4 linked regions of the Homo sapiens genome follow. The protein of the gene in region 2 purifies or fractionates together with the protein of the main gene of each other region. This does not show direct contact. Each region holds a gene or a part of one and is shown on either strand. Other genes may lie near its edges.

Region 1 (2,766 bases), on a different chromosome or scaffold from region 2:
GGCCCCATGGTCATAAACCTTTGATCAGACTGGCAGATTTAATAAACATCATGTAAATGTTAACTTAACTTGGAGTGAACAGCCTTCAGTTTACATTCCAAAAGTGATTAGATGAAAGGATAATACACAATGATATTTATGCCTAGAGCAGTTCAAAATTTAGAAAAGGAATTAGTGATCTTCAGTTAAGCTATTTTTTTTAATAAATTGAAAAGATGTTCTGTACAACATAATAGAGTCATAGGAAATCAAAAGCATATCAGTAACAACTTTTAGAAAAAGAAATGAATGATGAAAAACAGATATGACCTCTCAATATCTTGGGGAAGTAAGTTAGGATGATGTTTCATTCACGTCTTAATGATATAAATAAAGGATAACTCTGTGTAAGAAGTAGTGTTTGTATCTGGTGGTAAATTTAGTTAAAAACATAATCACAAGTTACAAAAACTGTAATTACAAATTACAAAGAAAAACAGGCAGACAATCTTGTATTGACATCCTCTTGCATCTTGTTACCTACCAATGTTCTGTTCCATTATAAAATTCAATACTAAAATTTCATAGCTAACATTCAATATTAATTTCAACATTAAAATGTATCAAAATCATTAAAAACAGTCAATTAGAAAAAGCAATACACCAAAAATAATGGTAGTGTTTCCAGGCTTCAACTGTGTTGTATTAACCATCACACAGGAGAATAAAAGGGCTGTGAATTTTAGATAGGCCACTTGGCTCTGGATTCCAGGACTATGGAAATGCCAGTGAAGGTAGTCCAAGAAGCATTTCTTGTTTTATAATATCAGCAGAGGACCAAAAAAAGGGATCCCAGATATGTTTTCAAGTAACAAAAAACATTAAAGTGCAATTTTGTCTTTTACATCTGAACAAAAGTTCTGTCATTTTTAAAAAATAAAGTAGGGCCACAGCTTTATAGTCATTTTCTCATCTAAAACCCCACAATTATTAACACAGATCAAACTGCAGTTTTGGAAGAGAGCCTTTGGACGGGGAAACTACTGAACAGTGATGAATGGCCATACCTAATTCATTGTTTGGAAATTGATGTGGAGGACTGTGTTTCACCGAGGGAGAAAGGGACCTCCCAGAGGCTCTGAGGCTGCAGATCTTCAGCCAGGTGACAGCACTGCACCTGCTGTGTGCACCCTGATGGCAACAGCAGGGAAGTCCACAGTCACGATGATAGAGACAGCCACAGCTGCCAATCAGAAGACTCACTCTTTCTGGTTTTCATGGACTGCGTTTTGCACATCGAGCTCACTGTTTAGAGCTGTCCTAGCACTCTTCTTTTTTTGAGACTTTTGACTCATTTTCTTTGCGTAACTTTCTCTGTTGATAGATGCGTATGGCTATGGCAGTGATGCAAAGCAAAATAAATATCTCCACTGCTATCACACCTAGGGAGAGAAAAGAATAAAACATCATAATTTTTTTTCTTTTTTCTTTTTAGAGAGAGGGTCTCACTCTGTCGCCCACGCTGGAGTGCAGTGGCATGATCACAGCTAACTGTAGCCTTGATCCTCCCAAGTAGCTGAGACTATAGGCCCACTCCACCGTTCAGCTTATTTTTTTTTTTCTTTTTACAATTATTCTTTGTAGAGATGGGGTGTTGCTATGTTGCCCAGGCTGGTCTCGAACTCCTGGGCTAAAGTGATCCTCTCACCTTGGCCTCCCAAATTGTTGGGATTACAGGTGTGAGTTACCGTGCCTGGCCTCAATGTCAGAGTATAAATGGTGACTTTTGGTCCAATCAGAGGCTTTGCAGACATCATTGCTTTTTAAGTTTGGTTAAAATAAACCAACCACCTATTATATTATAAATTGAAAACACCAAAACTCAGAAATGCTGAGGTCAAGTAATTTTATAACATTTAACATACTTCTGACGGACTATGACTTTTGGATATGGCTGTGTTAGGCTTTTTCCCTACAGGTATATGATGATTGGGTTTTAGATAATGCTTTCAGATTTAAAAGAATAGAGACATACATGTCTCTAAGACCGCGTACATCCTTCAGTTAACAAGTGGGAAATTTTAAATCATTTTACAAGTATAGAGTGTTTGCATCATCATAGATCATTACATGTTATTGTTAGTACAATGAAATGGGTACATTTTAATGAAATTGTTTTCAAATACTTTTATGATAATACACTTTTCTTTTTTTTCTGAGACGGAGTCTTGCTCTGTCGCCCAGTCTGGAGTGCAGTGGTGCGATCTCGGCTCACTGCAAGCTCCGCCTCCCAGGTTCACGCCATTCTCCTGCCTCAGGCTCCTGAGTAGCTGGGACTACAGGCGCGCGCCACAGCGCCCGGCTAACTTTTTGCATTTTTAGTAGAGACGGGGTTTCACCGTGTTAGCTAGGATGGTCTCGATCTCCTGACCTCATGATCCGTCCGCCTCGGCCTCCCAAAGTGCTGGGATTACAGGCGTGAGCCAACGCGCCCGGCCGATAATATACTTTTCAAACGCAGTAGGGTCGCATATATGTAATCAATCCCTATTACCAAAAATATTGCAGGCATATTTATTCATTTTTTTTTTACCTGGAATGTGGATTATTTGAAAGACCTGGGCAAAATGTTTTAAAATATTGAAACCATTAGCAGTGTCCATGATTCTCGACTCTAGCTGCACACTAAGTCAGTAAATCAGAATAAATGAATGGAAGGCCTGGATACCAGTATCTTTATAAATTGTTTCAGGCTTTAATTCAGAGCCAGAGTGCTAAAGCATGAAG
Region 2 (3,090 bases):
GTATAATTTGATTTTATTACCTTCTTTTTTACAAGCTGTTTTCTCAGTATTTTTCTTGGATGGGATGACGCTAGGCTGGAAAGTTTTTTTCATCACTATGATTTTATAAAACAATTTTTTCTATGAACCTTTACTTACTTGACTGGATTGGACTAAAAGCACTGATCAGAGGCCACGACATAAAAATTCAGTCCCTTTGTCCTTCCCCGTGCCTCCCAAAGTTACTTTAAGATCCTTAGAATATTTCTTTAAATATTTTATAGACAAAAAATTTAAAGACTATCTGTATTGCAAAATTAAACTATTTCTTTAATGAATATATTGCTTATTTTAAGTTCCAAAGGTGAAGTCTTTAAGAATAAAACATTACCAACTCCTGCTTTTATATGTAAGCAAACTTGATTGTGGCCTTTTTCAACTCATCTTCCTTCTAAGGTTTTCTGTTAGCCTCTAAGTAGACTCAGTGAAGGCTAAGGGACTGCTATATGATGAACAGTATTTTGATGCATACATTTAATACATACTTCTTCAGAACTTTTTCACTGTTATGATTTTATTGCCATTTTGCTTTTTTAGATGTGTGCAGCAGACTAAAACATTAATGAGATAATTGATTTTTGTCCCATAACATTACAAAGCTGATTCGACTAAGCCCCAGAAGAAAACAGCCAGGGTGCTATAGTCACCTTAGCTTAGCATCTTGGCTTCTTTGTATCTGTAGTTGTTGGAACATTGAAGAGACGCTTCAAGAAATACAGTTGCAGGATCCCAGAAAGAATAATAACAAGGCTCTGGGCTGTCGACCACCAGTTCACGTAGTTATAGTTTGATTGGATAAGGAAAAAGTCAGCCATTTTCCTCATCCGGGCAAAGTTGTAGTATCGCCACATGTGAAAGATATTGTTCTGCACCTTTTGTGTGCCGTCCTATGAGAGAGACAATTTTAAGGGGGATTCTTCCAAACCCCCATCTAGCCTCACCTGAGCGCTCACTAGCACTAACCTATCTCAAGTCAAATAATTTACCCATATGATTTTAAGATGTACAATACAATGATAGTTGTTAAATGTTGTGTTTGCTATGTATGAAATATGGTCTGGATTTGAGTTTAAAATTTTTGTTTTTGTTTTATGAGACAGGGTCTCACTTGTTTGCCCAGGCAGGAGTACAGTGGCGCAGTCACAGCTCACTGCAGCCTCAACCTTCTGCGCTCAAGTGATCTTCCCACCTCAGCCTCCCTAGTAGCTGGGACTACAGGCACATGCCACTACACCCAGCTAATTTTTTTTTTTTTTTATTGTAGAGACAGGGTTTTGCCATGTTGCCCAGGCTCATCTCGAACTACTGGGCTCAAGAGATCCACCCACACTGGCCTCCCAAAGTGTTGGGATTATGGTCATGAGCCACTGCCCCGGCCTTTTGTTTTGTTTTTAAATAATGGAAAACTTCAGTACTCAAACTAGAGAGCTCTTCCAGAGGACCTCTAGATTTAGATGTACTCAGCATGTCGTTACCATTCCAGGTGATGTTTTATGTTCTCTGTATATGGTAGAAGACAAGGGCCTGTGGACTTTTTATTAAAAGGCCAGATGGTAAATATTTTTGGCTTTGCAGGCCCCTGTGACTGCTGAACTCTTGCCATTGTAGTACAAAAGCAGCCACAGACAATATGTAATTGTCAAATGAGCATGGCTGTGTTTCAAGAAAACTTCCATTTACAAAAACAGGCAGTGAGCTTTTGTGCATTTAGGAGAGACTATTAAGAAAGTGAAAAGTGGCCGGGTGCAGTGGCTCATACCTGTAATCCCAGCACTTTGGGAGGCCGAGACGGGCGGATTACCTGAGATCAGGAGTTTAAGATCAGCCTGGCCAACATGGTGAAACACCGTCTCTACTAAAAATACAAAAATTAGCCAGGTGTGGTGGCACACGCCTGTAATCCCAGCTACTCGGGAGGCTGAGGCAGGAGAACTGCTTGAGCCCGGGAGGCAGAGGTTGCAGGGAGCTGAGATCGTGCCACTGTACTCCAGCCTGGCCGACAGCACAAGACTTTGTCTCAACAAAAAAAAAAGAAAAAAAGAAAGTGAAAAGTGGCCGGGCACGGTGGCTCGTTCCTGTAATCTTAGCACTTTGGGAGGCCAAGGTGGGCAGATCACCTGAAGTCAGGAGTTCAAGACCAGCCTGGCCAACATAGTGATACCCCATCTCTACTAAAAATACAAAAATTAGCCAGGCGTGGTGGCACCCGCCTGTAATCCCAGCTACTTGGGAGACTGAAGCATAAGAATCACTTGAACCCGGGAGGCGGAGGTTGCAGTGAGCCAAAATTGTGCCACTGCATTCCAGCCTAGGTGACAAAGCGAGACTCTGTCTCAAAAAAATATAAATAAATAAATAAATAAAAATACAAAAGTTAGCTGGGCATTGTGGCACACGCCTGTAGTCCCAGCTACTCAGGAGGCCGAGGCAGGAGAATCGCTTGAACCTAGGAGGCAAAGGTTGCAGTGAGCCAAGATCACGCCACTGCACTCCAGCCTGGGAGACAGAATGAAACTCCGTCTCAAAAAAGAAAAAAGAAAGTGAAAAGACATTGCCAGAATGGGAGAAAATATCTGCAACTCACATATCTTAGGAGGGATTTGTATCCAGAATATATAAACAAAATTCAACAATAAAAAGACAATTCAGGCAGGGTGCGGTGGCTCACGCCTGTATTCCCAGCACTTTGAGAGGCTGAGCTGGACAGATCACAAGGTCAGGAGTTCAAGACCAGCCTGACCAACATGGTGAAACCCCCGTCTCTACTAAAAATACAAAATGTAGGTGGGCGTGGTGGCACGTGGCTGTAATGCCACCTACTCAGGAGGCTGAGGCAGGTGAATCACTTGAACCCAGGAGGCAAAGGTTGCAGTGAGCCGAGATCACACCACTGCACTCCAGCCTGGACGACAGACTGACTCTCTCAAAAAAAAAAAAAAAAAAAAAAAAAAAAGTAAAATGGGCAAAGGATTTTCATTTTTTTGAGATAGGGTCTCACTGTCACAGCCTTGACATCCTGGGTTCAAGCAATTCTACCTAAGCCTCCCGAGT
Region 3 (3,258 bases), on a different chromosome or scaffold from region 2:
ATTTCTTTGGGTGGTAACACCTGTTTGATCTTCAAAGAACCAAGAAGGCCAAGATTTTATGTAATGCCAAGTATAGTGGAGAGCTATTACCTAATATATTAGACAGACATTTATTCAGGCCAGGGCACACTATATTGTCTAGGCATTTTATATATATATATGTGTGTGTGTGTGTGTGTGTGTGTGTGTATATACGTATATATGTATATATATATTTATATATATTTATATATTTATATTTATATATATTTATATATTTATATATTTTATTTTCTTGTATTAGGTTGTGATAATCCAGCTAGAGAAGTTTCATAAAACTCAAATCTAAAATCTTTCTTTTGCTGAAGAAAATATTTTCTGACTAGTTGATTCTGCCACACACGTCACAGCTAGCCTGCTCCCACATCCAAAACATATTCTAAGAAGGAAGCAGCTTAGCTGTCAGAATTTTTTTTAATGCCAGGTTATCATTGCTAAGCAATTCCCTATCCTTACAAGGACAGGCAGTGAAGAGGAGGATTCAGTCCAAAGACAACTCCCAATTTGTAGGTTGTTAAATACCTGTAGGTTTCTTTTAATCATAAAGAAGGAAAATGAAAGACTTGAGGATCACCTACATAGAGCGAAAACAGAAAAAAACCCCGAATCCCATTGCTTTGGCACTAGTATCTTTGGCTGATCTGAGATTACATGAGACACCAAAAATAAAAACACTGAACTTTGGTTTGATGAAATAGATAATTCAGGTTGTCATTTATAATTTTAGAGTTTGCTTCACATATACAATGCTGTGTTACGAAACAATGAACACTTTTATAAAAAATTTATTTCACACTTTTATACAAATATCCACAGGTAATTTCTAATCATGAAATAATTTTACAATGCTAGTTAGTACAAAAATGTATCAAATGCAAACAGACCAGTGACTTGACTTGAGATGACATTTTTAACAACCATAAATCTAAACACCATAACATCTTTGTTTCTTTGTTGAACCACCCTCCCAACACCCTTTTCAGGACATTCATCTTTTTTTTAGTAACACAGGTCTAAAAACACTGTCAAAGTATCAGCTCCTTAGCAATCTAGCAATCTAAACACATTAGGGACACAAGTTCCCCAAGCAAGAAACTGAGACTTTAAACACTGTTATAACCTGTTTTACAGAAATTTTTGTAAACAAAATATATTTTGTGACTAAGAATTCCAAAGTACAACCAAAACAACGTCCTTAGTATCTTAAGGTTTAAGATTTCCGAAAAGAAAAAAGCCCCCCCAAAACAACAGTGGCACTACAAACTGTGTTCTATTCTTTCAAAACACAGACACTGCTTATACTATATCCAAAACAAATTAGCACCTGTTTGCTGTTGCTCCCCATATAACTTAACATTGTGAAGCATGGTAATTAAAAAAAATCAGCTTTCATATCTATTCAGTCTCTGTTGAATGTATAGAGTAATAATTCCACCCCCTGCCATTTTTACAATTAAAACACAATTTAAAGTTCTTGTTAAATTAGCCCCAAAGTAATTTTTGGGAATACAGATAGGGGAGGAAACAAAACAAAAAATAGAACATCGACTCACTGATTAACTGTTTTGGTAGCAGATTCAGTAGTCTTATACTGGATCAGTTTGGATCCACCATAGGCATTCACCATTTCTTTCAAGTCCTGAATATACAGTATTTGCAGCAGTGAGTAAACCGCACTAGAGTTCAGTGAATAAACCCATTTTCTCCAAGAATTCCTGAATGTTACAGTATGAAATCCAGAAACATTATGCAGGCTTCTAAAGTAAAAAATATCCAATGCCTGAAATAAACATCTTTACAGTTATAATTCTATTTCTTAAACCTTTTGGGTTGTGGGGTGGAGGCTGTCATGAAGGAGAGGTTATAGTTTATAGATAAGTTATTAAAACAACTCTCTCTGGTACATTTATAAAGATTTTCTTTTTGCAGTAAATAATTTAGGTCAAAGTGATGACCTCCCATGCTCTAATTCTGATTGATTAAACCAACCTGAAGGGTAAACTGGAGACTCTTTGGCCTGTTAGTCAATAACAAAATGGTTTGTAAAGAAAAGAAAAAATAAATACCATATACAAATAAGTATAACTAGCATTCAAGTCTGTTGCACCTGTGTGTTTTAGTGAAAGGGAGAATGAAACTTGTATGCATTTGACGTGAGCAGGTATTCACACAGCTAGGAAACAGGAAAAGACGGTAGGATGGCAACATCACCTTCTATTGCACATTTAGTTTAAGACAGCACTTTCCGTTGAAACACAACTACCCCAATGGCATAGTCTTGTGATGTGGGACAGCTAACGTGATGGACGTCTGCGCAGCAGGCCCGAGGTTAGGACGGCCACTCTGTTAGTGCAGGTGAGTGTAGGTGCCTCCTCAGCTACACTATCTGGAGGATGTCACCTGAGTGCAACTGGGCAGGCCCTTCCCCAACACATGATGTAAGTCAGCCACGCCAAAAATAAAGGCAACCCAGAAAGTTAAATTACGGCAGTTAAAGAAAAATCCATTCCAACAGTTTTAAATTTGGCTGTGCAAAACAGGAGCCTTAGGCTACGTAACAATATCCACAGTTAAAACTGTAGGTTCGTACTGTGTGTAGTCACTCTGAAATCAGTCCTCAGGGATTGAGCAGGCTTTTAAATCCAAATTGAATTTCTGAGTTGGAAAAAGCAGTTTGGGTACTGTGAAGCTTTTTTTTTTTAGGCCCCCGCTATGAGTAGCTTTCATTTTCGTTCCACTTTGTGATCCACTGTTTTTTTTCAAGGTTATCAATATACTTTTCATCTTTGATCTCTCGCTCTTCTTTCCGGATCCTTACAGCATGGTATCGGGGAACACTGTCATCGTACCTAGAGCGTTTAAAGAATCCACACTAGAGAAGAGGGAAAGAGAAAGAGAAACAAATTAATCTCACAAAGAAGCAAATACACTAAATGGGAATGTCTAAGCTTTCTGTTCAGCTATGTCTACCTCTGGACTAAGGGGAAAAAGACATGGTTTTCTTTTAAGAAAGAACCAAGAGGCTGAAATGAAAGAAGAGCCAGTGGGGATCAACGGAAGAGAACAGCTGTAAAACTGGAAGAAAAGTCCATTTTCATCTTCTCTTTACATTTTATAACAAATGTAGGCTACCTCTTTACTAACAATTTAAGAGTTTATGAAAACAGTGCTTCCATATTTAAAAATAATCACAATATGATATGTAAAATATCTGATTAT
Region 4 (3,571 bases), on a different chromosome or scaffold from region 2:
CTTGTCACTGATTTTGCCCCTCATAACATTTCAAGTTCTCAGATGTTGATGCTGGCAAGTATTTTTGTCTGGTGAGTGAAGAGTGGTGCTCTCTGCTGAGGAGTGCACAGGCCTGGAGAAGGCATGGGAATACACTTACAGGAAATACTCTTGCCTCAGAAAGAACAGTGAATCTGCTCAGGTTGCCACTTTGCAGCTTAGGACAGGATCCCATTGCCTGTTTATGTGTTTTATCAACATCTGTCTGATCACTGGATGGAAAGTTTCAGACGATACCCGCAAATGCCCTCTGTTGGGAGGCCCACAGGTTTCCATAATTGCAGTGGCAGAGGAAGAAGCCCCAGTGGGGTCTTATCAGTCCTGCTTAGAATTCACTGCCAGCCAGAACTGTTCTAGAGCCTTTGCTCTTTTGTTAATCATTTCTCTTGAACTTAGTGGCTTTTCCCTCTCGGTGGTACAAATTTGACATTTATAAGGATGTCTTACTATGATTTAGTTCCTACAGGTCTATAAAATTATAACTTTGGGAAGTAGTTCTCCTTCATTCAATCTATGGAGCAGTAAACATTATCCCTTCTTTTAGCTTCTTTGAAAGCTTCCCTTAGCTCATTTGATTGAAAGGACTTGAGGCACTTTCCATAAAGAGGAGGATGGGTGAGTCACTCCCTGCAGAGACCCTGCTGCCAGCTTTCCTTCACCTAAACATCTTGCACCAGTTCAGCGTTTAGCTTGTCATTCTGACATGGTTTTTTGCATAGTTCAGCTCTGATGTTTTCTGAGCAGCAGCATTGAATATCTCCCTGAAAAGAGATAAAAGTTTATACCCTTTGCTTTCCTAAGGCAGATGTGTCATCAAGCAGGGGAGGACTCTGGCTGATAGAAGTCACTCTTTTTGTTCCCTTTTGCCCTTGTTTTTAAGACTGTTGACACTTGAACCTTCTTCACTTTTGGCTTATCCCCCAATTTTTGCCCCATCTTTCAGGGAAATAACAGTCTGTTATGAAATGTTCACAGCCTAGTTGGAAACTTGATTTATGAGCTCTGAATACATAAAAATGATTGCATTTACCAGCTTAATACTTTTGTTTCCTCATCTCAGAGTACAGTATACCTAGATAAAAAGATAGCTGTAACAGGAGGGTATAGTAAATTGTGTTAGAGACAAATATTTTCTGGAAGCTAAAGTGCTTTCCTGAAAAAAACAGTCTGTATTTGCAAATATGAAAGAGACAAGTGGCTTTTTCCTATTGGTGCTTGACATCTGTAATAGATAATAGAAAGGATAACCCCTTTTCTGTCTGGTCACTCTATGGTTTTTCTTCACAAGCTCAGATTTCCAGAATCCTGTTAAGAAAAAGGTGAGTCAGAGGTTGCTAGCCCTGCTTCCGCACTGGTGGTCAGGAGAGGATTGTGCAAAAGCTTACCTCTCTGGAAATTGGATCCTAAAGGACTCAGTTTAAAAAATAATGTTGTTAAATTCTAATTAAGATTCAGAAAAGACATTTTTGATTTGAAAATAAAACCATCCGTTAGTTTTCTATAACCCAAATGCATATTTGTAAAGAATACAAGATTAAAATGTCCCTAATGAACTGGGCCTGGAATAGGACCTCTGTTCATGAATATTCTCTATCATTGTATTGAGACAGGAAGGAGTGAGCTTCCCCCAAAGGTGACGCACAGTTGAACTTGAACTTTTCCTTAGTGTAACCTCCCTCCCTCTTACTTCTCCCCTAAATGTTTCTAGCATTATGGGTTTGGTTTCTAATCTTATTTTGCTGTGCAAGCTGCAAGAATGTCAGGTTTTTCTGACTATTCCTCTGCCTTCTGATTACCCTTTTAAGCAATGCTGATTGCAGGAAATTGCTATGGTGCAAGGCGGGTGTCACAACACACAGTGATTAAAACCCGCATGTGTCATTCACTTCTTGATTGAAGTAATCATACAGAGGGGAAAAGCAGATGAAAAACCTGCTAAATGTGCAGAGGGGGTCTGTTTCTCATCATTTGGGTGTAAGGATTTTGAGTTAAAGAATAAAAAATAGTGTGAGTAAGACTTGTGTTTTTAGTGATTTTGCTTCATTCTGAATCCTTAAAGCTTCTCAGCAAGGCCTGGGCCTCTGAACATGATCTAAGAAAAACGGGTTGTTGCTTTATACCAAACACATGTTGCCCAATGTACGCGACTATAAGTGGTTGAGCATATCAAGGGGAAAGATGCTAGAATGTAAATGGGACAAGCAGATGAAAACAAAATGGGAGATGCCTGAATAGCTCAAACTAAGTTCCTTATTTTTATTTTTATTTGAGACAGGGTCTCACTGTGTCGCCCAGGCTGGAGTGCAGCGGCACGACCACAGCCCACTGCAGCCTTAACCTCCTGGGCTCAAGCAATCCTCCCATCTCAGCCTTCCTAGTAGCTGGGATTACAGGCATGAGCCACCACACCCAGCCACCAACTAAGTTTTTTTATCACTCTTTCCTTTGGTCTGCGCGATCTTGAGAGAATAGTTAAATTGAAATGGCAGTTTTATTATTTTAGCCCTATGTGGCTCTAAAGCGATTTAAATTATTTGGTGCTTCTCAAAAGTATTAGTTCCATTGGGGCATAGCAATTTGGGCTAGATATAGTGGTCAGTATAGAAAATACAGCTAACTATTTGAAACTTGATTTCTCCCTAAATCCTCATGACCAATCCCATTCTCTTCCATCTCGCTCTTGTGCTTCTTTTGTGTAGCTTAGCATGGGAAGAGTGGGCTGTGCACTCTCATTCCCATGAGGCATAGGATCATCAGTGTTATTCCAACAAAGAACATTATATGTCAAGCACCGTAATAGGTGTTAAAGGCATCCACTAATGATTTCTTACCTTTATGTCTCCCTCAGGTACAGAACCCTGGTATTTCTATTTAATTAATGGATTTCTGAATTTCAATGTAGCCTTTGCTTTGGCTCTCCTAGTCCTACCACTGACTTCTCTTATGGAATACCTGCTGCAGAGATTTCATGGTGAGTGGCATAAGAGATGGTAGGTGTTTTGGGAGGAAAGAGCAAGTAATGGTGTATACCAAGAACTGAAGGAAAATCCTACTTACTTTATTTTCCACATTCTTCCTATGGAAATGGTTGGCTTACTGAATTTTCAGTCTGTGTTTGTTGATCCATTGAACCCTTGTGAAGATTTGGTGAATTGTGGCAAATTAAATTGACAGGAGGAAGAGCTTTATTATTGCTTTAAGTGAGGAAGTCAATATAATTTACACAATCACCCAGGGAAGTAAAAATATTTATAAAATCTCAGAAGGAGGCCGGGCGCGGTGGCTGACATCTGTAATCCCAGCACTTTGGGAGGCCGAGGCGGGTGGATCACCTGAGGTCAGGAATTAAAACCAGCCTGGCCAACGTGGTGAAACCCCATCTCTACTAAAAATACAAAAATTAGCCAGACATGGTGGTGGATGCCTGTAATCCCACTTACTAGGGAGGCTGAGGCAGGAGAATCGTTTGAACCCAGGAGGCAGAGGTTGTAGTGAGCCAAGACCCTGCGCCGCTGCACTCCAGCTGAGCGAC

The links. The genes of interacting proteins can lie anywhere in the genome.
Region 1: the proteins of TMED6 (region 2) and CNTNAP3B purify together in Homo sapiens (affinity purification with mass spectrometry; one large-scale study listed by BioGRID and IntAct). This does not show direct contact.
Region 3: the proteins of TMED6 (region 2) and ITGA6 purify together in Homo sapiens (affinity purification with mass spectrometry; 2 studies listed by BioGRID and IntAct, with this or other methods). This does not show direct contact.
Region 4: the proteins of TMED6 (region 2) and ALG9 purify together in Homo sapiens (affinity purification with mass spectrometry; 2 studies listed by BioGRID and IntAct, with this or other methods). This does not show direct contact.

Annotation. Positions count from the first base shown.
Region 1 is NC_000009.12:41,892,690-41,895,455, forward strand, and holds part of CNTNAP3B (contactin-associated protein-like 3B precursor), read right to left. Parts: intron 1,422-2,766; coding exon 1,300-1,421; 3' UTR 1-1,299.
Region 2 is NC_000016.10:69,342,715-69,345,804, forward strand, and holds the end of TMED6 (transmembrane emp24 domain-containing protein 6 precursor), read right to left. Parts: intron 927-3,090; coding exon 693-926; 3' UTR 536-692; downstream 1-535.
Region 3 is NC_000002.12:172,503,744-172,507,001, reverse strand, and holds the end of ITGA6 (integrin alpha-6 isoform b preproprotein), read right to left. Parts: exon of another isoform or gene 2,912-3,258; coding exon of another isoform or gene 2,750-2,911; 3' UTR 543-2,749; downstream 1-542. UniProt on the Homo sapiens protein: Integrin alpha-6/beta-1 (ITGA6:ITGB1) is a receptor for laminin on platelets. Integrin alpha-6/beta-1 (ITGA6:ITGB1) is present in oocytes and is involved in sperm-egg fusion.
Region 4 is NC_000011.10:111,844,040-111,847,610, reverse strand, and holds part of ALG9 (alpha-1,2-mannosyltransferase ALG9), read left to right. Parts: intron 1-2,887; coding exon 2,888-3,010; intron 3,011-3,571. UniProt on the Homo sapiens protein: Mannosyltransferase that operates in the biosynthetic pathway of dolichol-linked oligosaccharides, the glycan precursors employed in protein asparagine (N)-glycosylation.